2 separate regions of the Homo sapiens genome follow, and region 1 is linked to region 2. Evidence: fine-mapped expression QTL. Tissue or cell type: monocytes. Region 2 holds a variant in brackets; the other region holds the start of a gene. All regions are shown on one strand. Distances are between the middles of the regions.

The links. PIP is the estimated chance that this variant, and not a neighbour inherited with it, causes the effect.
Region 1: it holds the start of F10-AS2, and the variant in region 2 is fine-mapped to the expression of F10-AS2 in monocytes (Quach 2016, PIP 0.95). The same link has a PIP of 0.9 or more in monocytes after LPS, monocytes after Pam3CSK4 and monocytes after R848.

The regions. Positions count from the first base shown.
Region 1 is chr13:113,151,762-113,156,983 of GRCh38, forward strand. It overlaps F10-AS2 (F10 antisense RNA 2), which reads right to left and starts at 2,225. Exons shown (of 3, transcript XM_011537532.4): 1 at 2,153-2,225; 2 at 1,383-2,009. The coding sequence starts at 2,225. LOC124903216 (a long non-coding RNA gene) reads left to right here and starts at 2,739. Exons shown (of 4, transcript XR_007063880.1): 1 at 2,739-3,104; 2 at 3,296-3,354; 3 at 4,056-4,119; 4 at 4,769-4,849. RefSeq lists a silencer at 2,606-2,655.
Region 2 is chr13:113,195,477-113,200,698 of GRCh38, forward strand. PCID2 (PCI domain containing 2) reads right to left here. Exons shown (of 14, transcript NM_001127202.4): 2 at 4,951-5,040; 3 at 2,715-2,788; 4 at 1,702-1,767; 5 at 705-746. Among named protein-coding and RNA genes, the nearest start is that of PCID2, 11 kb to the right of the region's middle. The variant A/G (reference allele first, on the strand shown) is at 2,492.

The DNA.
Region 1 (5,222 bases), 44 kb before region 2:
GGAGCGAAGGTGGGAGAAGTGATTCCGCCTGAGAGTGAGGGAGAGAGAACCTGCAGCAGCCCCATCGCCTCCCCCAGTGACACCTCCCCTCCCCCTGAGCAGGAAGGGGAGCTTTGGGGCGTCCACCTCTGGAGGACGAAGGTGAGAGCGGGTGTCGGGGGCCTGGTGGGGCAGGGAGGCCCTTGTGGGTGCTGGGAGACCAGCCTGTGTGGGTCCAGAGCTGCGCTTGGATGGGGAGATGGGCCTGCCGTCTGGGAACACGCAGCCCAGGCTGTGAGGAAGAGGAAGCAGGAATGAGAGCTTCAGCCAGGACAGCTGGTGGACGGCAGACCTCGGCCCCACCATCACTGTCATGGAGCCATCTCAGCAGGGCTGGGGGTTAAGCTCCCGTTTAGAAGGACCCCACTCCACAGCCACGGGGTAGCCACTGATGTGGGCAAGCGCCCGCCATGAAGACCCCACCTTGGTGGAAGGGCACTGAGAAACTGGACACCCTCGAGACTCAGAGGATCACCTCAGAACTGGCCTGTTAACTATGCCAGGAAAGCATGCCTTTAGCGTGGCAAAACCTGGGGACCCAGCCTCCTCCTGAGCCGAAGGCAGGGGGCTGCCAAAACACTGTCTAAGCAGAGCCCGATCCTGAGTCAGGCAAGTCCAGATGGAGGAAACCATAGACTCTTAAAAAACGTCAGCGTCAGCAAAGACCAGAAACAGCCAGTGACTCTGCAGTCAGTGAGACCAGAGGAGTCTGCAGGCTGCCAGGAGAGCGAGGGAGACTGCTGGGGGTTCCCGTCAGACAGCGCTCAGCGGGGGCGAGGGGAGAGGGAGAGAGGCAGAGCCAGAGAGACAAAAAGAAAGAGAGACAGAGACAGAGAGAAAGAGAGAGACAGAGACAGAGAGAAAGAGAGAGACAGAGACAGAGAGAAAGAGAGAGACAGAGACAGAGAGAAAGAGAGAGACAGAGACAAAGAGAAAGAGAGAGACAGAGAAAGAGAAACAGAGGGGAGGGAGTAAGTCCAGGTAAAAAACAAACAAAAAAATTGAGAATAGAACAAGAGAGAAACAGAGACATGGAGACACAGAGAAAGACACAGTGAGACACAGGAGACAGAGACAGAGAGAGATGCTGAGAGACAGACAGGGAGAGGGAGAGAGAGAGGAGACACCAAGACACAAAGAGGGCGGAGAGACAGACACAGAAAGAGGGAGACAGCGGGGCTGGATGGACGTGTGGCCGGGCCAGTGGGGAGGAGAGACGAGTCCGCAGACAGCGTTCAGAGGCCGCGCTGCCTGGGTGCTGAGCCGTCCCGGGGTTCACGGTCGCAGTTTGTCCTTACAAAACGCCCAGCCGCCCCGACCTGTGGTGCTTAGGGAGGACCTACCTGGCTGTGCCGGTCTGAGAAGGGGCCAGTGAGGCCCGGTGCGGGTACGGGCGGGTGCAGATGCAGCCAGGAGGACGGGCGGGAGCGGGGGCCTGTCCCACACGGGGGCCTCGGCAGCACCGGCATGGCTGGAGGCCAGTACGGCCAGGTGTGGCGGGAGGGAGCGCCGTCTGGCTTGGGTCGTCCATCCTGACAGGACGCTGCAAGGGCAGGAGCCCCGCGCCCCGTGTCCTGCGCCCCCGCTCGAGGACAAGCCCCAGCCGCCGGTCTCCGCTGGGTTCCGACAGGCCTTGCTGGGAGGCCTTGCTGGGAGCTGGGGGTCGAGGCTCACAGACTGCGCTGACCCCAGCAGGCACAGCTGGGTCCAGGGACTCGGGAACTCGCAGCCTGACGCGGGCCGGACCCCCGGGGTGGGTGCTGAGGGCCTCGGATGCCCTCCCTGGCTGGACGTTGTGGCTGTGCTGATACTGAGCGGTAACCCTAGGAAGGAGAGTCCCCTGGGCTCAGCTACCCGGGACAAGGTCAACAGGGACACCGGCCCCAGTTCCAGGAGAAAAACAAGCACGGCCAGCGGCGAGTGTGGGCGACAGCAGCTCAGGGAGAAGCAGATTATCAACAGCGAATTCACTCAGGGTCAGCCAACTGTACGCTTAAAAAAAGATTCCTGCGGTAAACTGTATGTCTATTTTACCACAATAAAAAACTTATTGTTTTTAATTACCAATGACTTCTAAAAAATGTTTTTAAAACCCAGATCACAAATCCTGAACATAGGGCCTGAAAGGCGAATTCAGCCACCACGGAGGACTCCCGCACCGTGGAGCCGGGACGCAGGGACTCCATGCTGCGCGGAGGGCAGGGGCACGTGACGCAGGGCGTGGGGGAGGCGGGGCGTGGAGGAGGCGGGGCGCGGGGGGCGGGGCGTGGGGGAGGCGGGGCGTGGGGGCGGGGCGTGGGGGGCGGGGCGTGGGGGAGGGCAGGGGCACGTGACGCAGGGCGTGGGGGAGGCGGGGCGCGGGGGAGGCGGGGCGCGGGGGAGGAGGGGCGTGGGGGGGCGGGCCGTGGGGGAGGAGGGGCGTGGGGGGGCGGGCCGTGGGGGAGGAGGGGCGTGGGGGGCGGGGCGTCGGGGAGGGCAGGGGCACGTGACGCAGGGCGCGGGGGAGGCGGGGCGCGGGGGAGGCGGGGCGCGGGGGAGGCGGGGCGCGGGGGAGGCGGGGCGCGGGGGAGGCGGGGCGCGGGGGAGGCGGGGCGCGGGGGAGGAGGAGGAAGGGTTCTGAGTGGACGCGGGGACTCCATGCCACGCGGAGGGCAGCCGCTCATGAGGCGGGGTGTGGGGGAGGAGGAGGAAGGGTTCTGGAGTGGCTTTTCTACTCCAGAAGTCTCCCCGATCCTGAAAGAAAATCTAGACAGGTGGAAAAAAGAGAAACATGTCCAGATAGTGTCTTCCACATTAATGGTCTCCCAAGCTCTGAGGAAGCCCAATGAGTTGAACAGTTTCTCATAAGCTTGCGGGTCCCTGTCAGTGCTTCTGAGATGCTAAAAACGCCAGGCTGTGGGCTGCGTCACCATGTGTCTCCTCTTTAATTTCTTCAGGAGCTCCAGGTGATAAGCTGCCACCTCCATCCACAATGTGGACATCAGAGGATGCAGCATGCTGTGGTTTGAATGTGTCCCTATAGTGCACGTGTTGGAAACTTAATCCCAAGGCAACAGTGTTGAGAGGTGGGACCTTTAAGACGCATTCATTGTCAGAGCCCACGTGAATGAATTGATACCACTATTGTAGGAGTGGGTTCGTTATTTTGGAATAAAAGGATGAGTTTGGCCCCCTTCCTCTCTCCCCTTTCTCTCTCTCTCTCTCTCTCTCTCTCTCTCTCTCACGCGCATCCACCTTCCACCATGGGATGACGCAGCAAGAAGGCCCTCGCCAGATGGGGGCCCCTGGACCTTTGATGTCCCAGCCTCCAGAACTGTAAGAAATAAATTTCTGTTCTTTATAAATTACCCAGTCTCAGATATCCTGTTACAGCACCACAAAGTGGACTAGACCACACTCTACTCTGTGAATCTAAGACGCACCATTATTGATGAACCTGAAAGAAAGAGCATATACCCAAATTAGCTGTGGGTCAGCTCAGCCTGGAGGCAAGAGGGGGAAGCTCAGATAATCTAAACCACAGGCCAGCCAGGAACCAGCTTTGCAATACATTTACACTATTCACATGGGCTCCCAAAACTCACACAAAAAAATGTATTTAAAGGGATTGCAAAGTGGCAGTGCCCCCAGGGGGCAACATAAAGCACAACCCCTTTCAGGAAGAACTCGGCCTTGTCCAGGCTGACATTAGAACATTGGCTGTAGGGAACAGGCCAATTCAGAGATGTTGAAATCTAAAACATAGGTCCCAGAGTTGATTGAACAGGTATTTAAATAGGGACTGCGGCAAGATCTAAGTATTCAATGACCAGGTTCTCCATAGGCTGCTCATTTCAGGTTCCACACAAAGTTGTGGGGTCAGTTGATTTAAGCTGGGGACCCCCACAGAGGACACCCCAACATCTGAAGGACACGACAAAGACCCCAAAGGAAGGAAGATTCTCCTCAGGTATACAGAAGGAAAGTAAACCAGTCAATGGAAAAAGTGTCCCAATGTTGGTTGGTTTGTTTTTCAGAACAGAAGAGGGTGACAGAAGAACGATTATTCATATGAGAGATGAGGAAGATGAGTAGAACGAGGTGAATCTTAATGTTTGGACAATTTATTATTGTAGAATTTTTGGTCCAAAGGTGGTATCTTTGAGAAGGCAGATGAGAAAATTAAATCACCACATACAACACGGTCAGTCCACGTACAACACAGTCAATCACAGCTGTGGCCTCGATGTTGATGCCTTCCTGTATTAGTCTGTTCTCATGTCACTGTGAAGAAATACTTGAGACTAGGTAATTTATAAAGAAAAGCGGTTTAATGAACTCACAGTTCCACATGGCTGGGGAGGCCTCAGGAAACATAATCATGGCAAGCAGGCACCTCTTCACAGGGTGGCAGGAGAGAGAAAATGTGTGTCAATCACAGGGGGAAGCCCCTTATAAAATCATTAGCTCTTGTGAGAATGCACTCACTATCACAAGAACCACCTCCATGATTCAATCACCTCCACCTGGTCCTGCCCTTGACCTGTGGGGATTATTACAATTCAAGGTGAGATTTGGTTGGGGACACAGAGCCAAACCATCCCCCAAAACTCACGTTGAAACCTAACCCCCTGTGCAATAGTACTAGGAGGTGGGGCCTCTGGGAGGCACTCTGCCTTCATGGATGGATGACTGCCCTCCCAAAAGAGGCTCCAGGGAGCACCCACATTCCTCCCTTCCACCATCCAAGGACACGTCTATGAATCATGGGCCGTCACCAGACACTGAGTCTACTGGAGCCTTGATCTTGGACTTCCCATCCTCCAGAACTGTGAGCACTACGTTTCTGTTTATCGTAAATTACCCACTCTAAGGTGTTTTGTTACAGCAGCCCCAACAGACTAAAATGGTCCATGAGGGAAGAGGTTGTAGCTCAGATACCCATGTCAGGCATATAGGATGTGCTTAATTAACACTTATTGATCGAATGTGTATGTCCCTGTCTGCCTTTCCATTTTTAGGCAGCTATTGATGGTTTTTAAACTATCCAGCAGAAGTATTTTTAATGTAAATTTCCATGTGGGAATACATTTTCACACAAAAAAAGGCACCTTTTCTTAAGTGAAGGCCACGTAGATTGCCAGGCTGGTGCAATTCACCCAAGAGCTATCCTATACAATCAACTTCTGGCTTTCAAATTATTT
Region 2 (5,222 bases):
AACAGGAACCAGAATATGTAATACACAAAATGTCACAAAACAACTTTTACAGCCAACTGGCAAAACTGGACTGTTTTCATGTGCAAGTTTTCACGTTAAAAGATAAAAGGGTGGCGGGAGGCAGAGGCTGCAGTGAGCCAAGACTGCGCCACTGCACTCCAGCCTCGGCGACTGAGCAAGACTCCTTCTCAAAAAAAAAAAAAGATAAAAGGGCGGGTTTGTTTGCAAAAGGCCTTTGGTTATTTCAGTATAAACAAATTTCAGTATTAACCTATAGTTTGTTAATAAATCATAAAATTTAGTTTGGCAAGGCATTTAAAAATACCACCATTATTATGTATTAGAACACCCCAAATGAACCGTAGTTGGTCTACCTCTTTTATCTAAGGTTTAAAACCAAAAGTTCAAAATTGACAACTGAAGGAAAAAACAGTATTTAATAAATATCTAGGGAAATGGACATCTGAAATAAAAATAATACTATATTGACATAGACACACTGCAAACAATGTGGCTGATCTACCATTTCAGTTTACTAGATTTGTGACTCCACTCATCTGTGTAGATATTACCATATGTCAACACACTGATTACCAAATATCCACATGGAAAATACAATACACATTTATTTAAAGCAAATTTGTAAAAAGATTCTGCTAAAAAAATTGCCATTTGCTAATTCAGCTGTTTCTGTTCACACTTACCAGTTTTCTTCTTTGTGGGCCTGGAATGCTCGCAAGAATGATGTACTGTATTAAGGAAGATATGGCATACAAAGTTCAAATAATGCTACGTACGATAAAAGTAAAGAATAAGAATCTAAATTTTAAGGAATGTAGATCACCCTTGAGCAGATTTATGTTGCAACAATAGTAAGTTCTTGAAGGAAAAAAGGTATAAGCTCACATTACAAATATCTGTATCTCATTAGGCTCAAGTATACTAAATACACTTATTTCATACACACTGTCTCCTAAATAAAAAAGACTTACAAGATTTTTTAAAATCAGCCCTTTCTGACATTTTATTTGGTTTCTCTGAGCCCAGATGATCATGAGTTATATTTAAGTGCTTTAGAATCTGTAGCATAAGGCTGATTTTATCAACTCTAGAATTCTTGAATTCTAAGGAGGCTGTGAGCAAATAGCCCAACTCTCTTCTGTGTATATTTAAACAAGGTGGTTAAAACGAAAAGACAAAATCTAGAGATACATACAAATCCTTAGCACACTCACTGACTCAGGCCGTAACTAAAGATACCCTTTAAATGACTGAAGTATGAATTGGTTTGATTTAAGGTCTTCAGCTGCCACAATTCAATGCCGATGTACATCTGAGGCCACTCTTGTCCATCTCTGCCTGAATTCTGGATTTCTGGTATTTCACCAACAGGACTTAACCAGTCCCTGTAAATATACTTACTACCTTACTAAAGGCAACAAAGCATTCTTCTTCTCAGCAGAGTAAGATCCTTCTTCCTAACCAGTGTTCTTCCTTACTAAGTACTGCACGAGTCTTCAGATCCATGCTAAATTTAAGTACCCAAGTGAAAGAGCTGAAACGAGCTTCTGTTCCAAAACACTGTCATTCCTTTCTAACTGCAGAAATGAGCAACTGGCCCAGTGTTTCCGGGTCTCAAGTCCCAAGTAATCCACTGCATGTGTTCTATGCGGGACAGCTGCCATGAACGACAAAGGATATTGGACTATCACGGTCTGGCACTTGTATGCCTCTATGAAGTCATGATTCCCCACTGCATAAGTGCACCTGGAGGAGAAACAGAAACATGCTGTCACACAATAAAAACCTAGCACTAGTTATGCAGCCCACACAGCTCACTTCATTGCACAGGTCCCAGTGGTCCTGGGATGAAAGGAGTGAAGGAAGAAACACACAAATGGCTGAACACAAACAGGTGAGGATAAGAGGAAGTCCCACAGTAAGCTTGGAGACTACTCTTTCAAGTCCCAGAAGGACCTAGCACCAGCAGGTTTATGAGTAACACATGTTGATAACATAGTATGACCCTTCCACTCTAGCAGGGGCTGACAATGACATTCAAACTAGATTCCCAGCTGGGTAATGTCAGTGTTAGTTCATCGCCAAATCTGGAACCTATCGCACACTGCACAGAGCTAGGAAATCACAGGTGCTTTGTACTACAAGGAACACGGTGGTGCCCCAACTCTTCCAAAGACCCTGTGGGGTTCACAGAACATTCCTGCTCACAGACCCCACACTGGTCCTGTAGCCCAGGCTGCTCTGAAAGACAGTAATCAAATCTCACATGGCTATAAGGACACAATCTTCTGCCTGAACTGATCCTTTAGAGATAAAACAGTAGATATGAAGTGTACATAAAAAGTAGCATTGTTTGCTTTGCTCAACTCTAATTTCTTTCCCAGTAACGTAAAGAGCTTCAAAAACAGACATATTTCCACGAAAAGGGTAAGTGAACAGTTCGGCTCCAAACTCTACTAAAAAGACCACT[A/G]AGCAGGCACTCTGCTAAATACTGTGTGATGTTAAAAATAGTATTATATAACTGATGTTTACAATTTCCACAGGCTTTACCAAACTGAAGTTACAAATGCATTTTCCCACTTTTTCAAAGTCAGTTATTCACTGCTTCAAGCACAAGATAATGCAAGATAAAATCCCCAGTTAATTCAGCAATTTCCAGATGTGTGTGTTTTTCTTCCTCCCCAACAGATTACCTTAAATGAGCTGCAAACATTTCATCATAAGGGGGTTCCAAGACTTGTTGACACTTCTCCTCTGGAGAGGCCATCTGATTTTAAAAAAGAAAAATAGCAAAAGTAAAATTAATAGGCACAGAAAGAATGCAACATATAGAAAGAGATTTAAACCTCTGTTTCAAGAGAATTTATGCTTTACAGTTCACAGTAACACTTTATATTTACCACTCTAAATAAAAGGTTCAGGCCGTGAGCACAGTGGCTCATGCCTGTAATCCCAGCACTTTGGGAGGGCGAGGTGGGCAGATCACTTGAGGCTAGAAGTTCAAGACCAGCCTGGCCAACATGGTGAAAGCCCGTCTCTACAAAAAAAATTACAAAAATTAGCTGGATGTGGTGGTACACGCTGGTAATCCCAGCTACTCAGGAGGCTGAGGCATGAGAATCGCTTGAACATGGGTGGGGGAGGTTGTAGTAAGCCAAGATCGTGCCACTGCACTACAGCCTGGGTGACAGAGGGAGACTCTGTCTCATAAATAAATAAATAAATAAATGGTTCATTACTTCAACAAATATTTATCAATATTTCAGGGGAAAAAGAAGCCCATGAATATAATTTGGTCTCGCCTTCTGCAAGTCAGAAAATATTCTAGGCACTTTCATATACATTTCAGTATATTAGTATTCTTGACCAGTCAGTCAAGAAATACTTGTTAAGTAACTGTCATAGGTTTAGTAAGTGAGGTCTAATGAGTTACAGATGGTGCTATGTTAGGACTCGTTCTTCTCGGCTTCCTGCTGAGACCACCAGTCTCATCTCCTGGGCTAGTCTAGCTGACATTTCTTTCTAAGTTTTCCTTTCCTCCTAACAGTCAAATTTTAGATAATCTGAACATCTCAACAGGTGATGGTTAATTTTGCCAACTTGACTAGCTGTGGAGTCCCCAGACAATGTTATTTCTGGGAGTGTCTGTGAGGGTGTTTCTGGATGAGACTGGCAGTTGCACTAGTAGACTCAGGAAAGTAGATGGCCCTCCTCAGTGTGGACGGGCAATGGCCAATCTGATGAGGGCTTGAATAGAACAAGAGGTCGAGGAAGAAAGAATTCACTCCTTGTGTGGGATTTCTTGACCTCTACAATCACAGGACCCAGTTCCTCATACTAAATCTCTATAAATATTGATATATCCCACTGGCTCTGTTTCTCTGGAGAACCCAGACTAACACACAATGGATTATAAGCACACTGCGTTTTTTTGTTTTGTTTGGTTTTGTTTACAAAAGCAATGAGCCCATGCTGATATGGTGAGAGAGAAGAATGACAGTATCAGAAAAATCACCATTCTACAGTCCCTGGTGAATGAAACCACCGAAAGAAAGTTTACTGGGGAATTTTACAATGAAGGGATCTGTCTCAGATTGCAAACAGGACAGTGTGTGTCCTCTCATGTCATACAATACAAAGCACAGGGCACCAGCCATGGGGTGTTCTGGCCAAGGCAAGCCTGAGTCTCATCGAGTCTCTAGCACTAACTCCTACTTAGAGCAATGGTTTTCAACACTGTCTACACATAGAATCACCTAGGTAACTTTATTAGAAAAACAAAAACAGGCCTGCTGCTACTTCAGAGACTGATTTACCTGGTCTGAGTTGCAAGTCTGTACACCGCCAAACATAATCACCAATAGATAAGCCCATTTTTCTTCCAAAAGAAAAATGCTGCTTCCAGTAGGAACACACTCCAATATGATAAAGGGTGTCAATGAGGAAACAGGGCTTTACCAAATGTCCACAAGATTTTCTATAGAAAATACTGCCTCAACATCATCTACGCCACAGATGACATGGAAACTCCATGTACAACCCCAGGCTGGGCCTTGGCTTGCCAGCCTTTCTGACTAACAACTTAAATGGGAGACACCTGTGGTACATGACGTCTATGGGGCTTTGGGGACGCACAGGCCTAGACAGAATCTAAGCTCCACCGCCTCTCCACCATCTAACTTCTCTAAACCTCAGAGAGCTGTCTAGGAATCAAACACAAGGGCAGGAGGTCCACATCACCACAGTGTGCGTACATAGTCAGTGCTCCACAAATGGATTGAAATTACATAAATCATAAAGAAACTTTAAAATTTTCAAATAAGAGTGACAATATTAGTTTTCTTCTTACTCAAACTCTACGCTTCTCTTAGGAAAGTGGTTACCCTGTAATTGTCTGCAGACACCTGTGTGCACAGCTCTTTCACCTACTTGAAGTCGTGGGTTTGCAACATGAGGATGTTTAAAAGACACCAACTCTGCACAAGATGCTCCATCTCTGCTGTCGATGGCTTCGTACACCTGAAACATTTGAAAGGGAAACCTAAGTAGAAAATAAAATATTCTGTTCGAATAGAACCTACAACAATACACTGAATGCCACACAGGGGAAAATTCATTTTCCCCTACTTTGAAAGAAGACAGAACAATCAAAATGTAACAGATGGTCACTACTCTCTGCAGTGGGTAAACAATAATTTCTT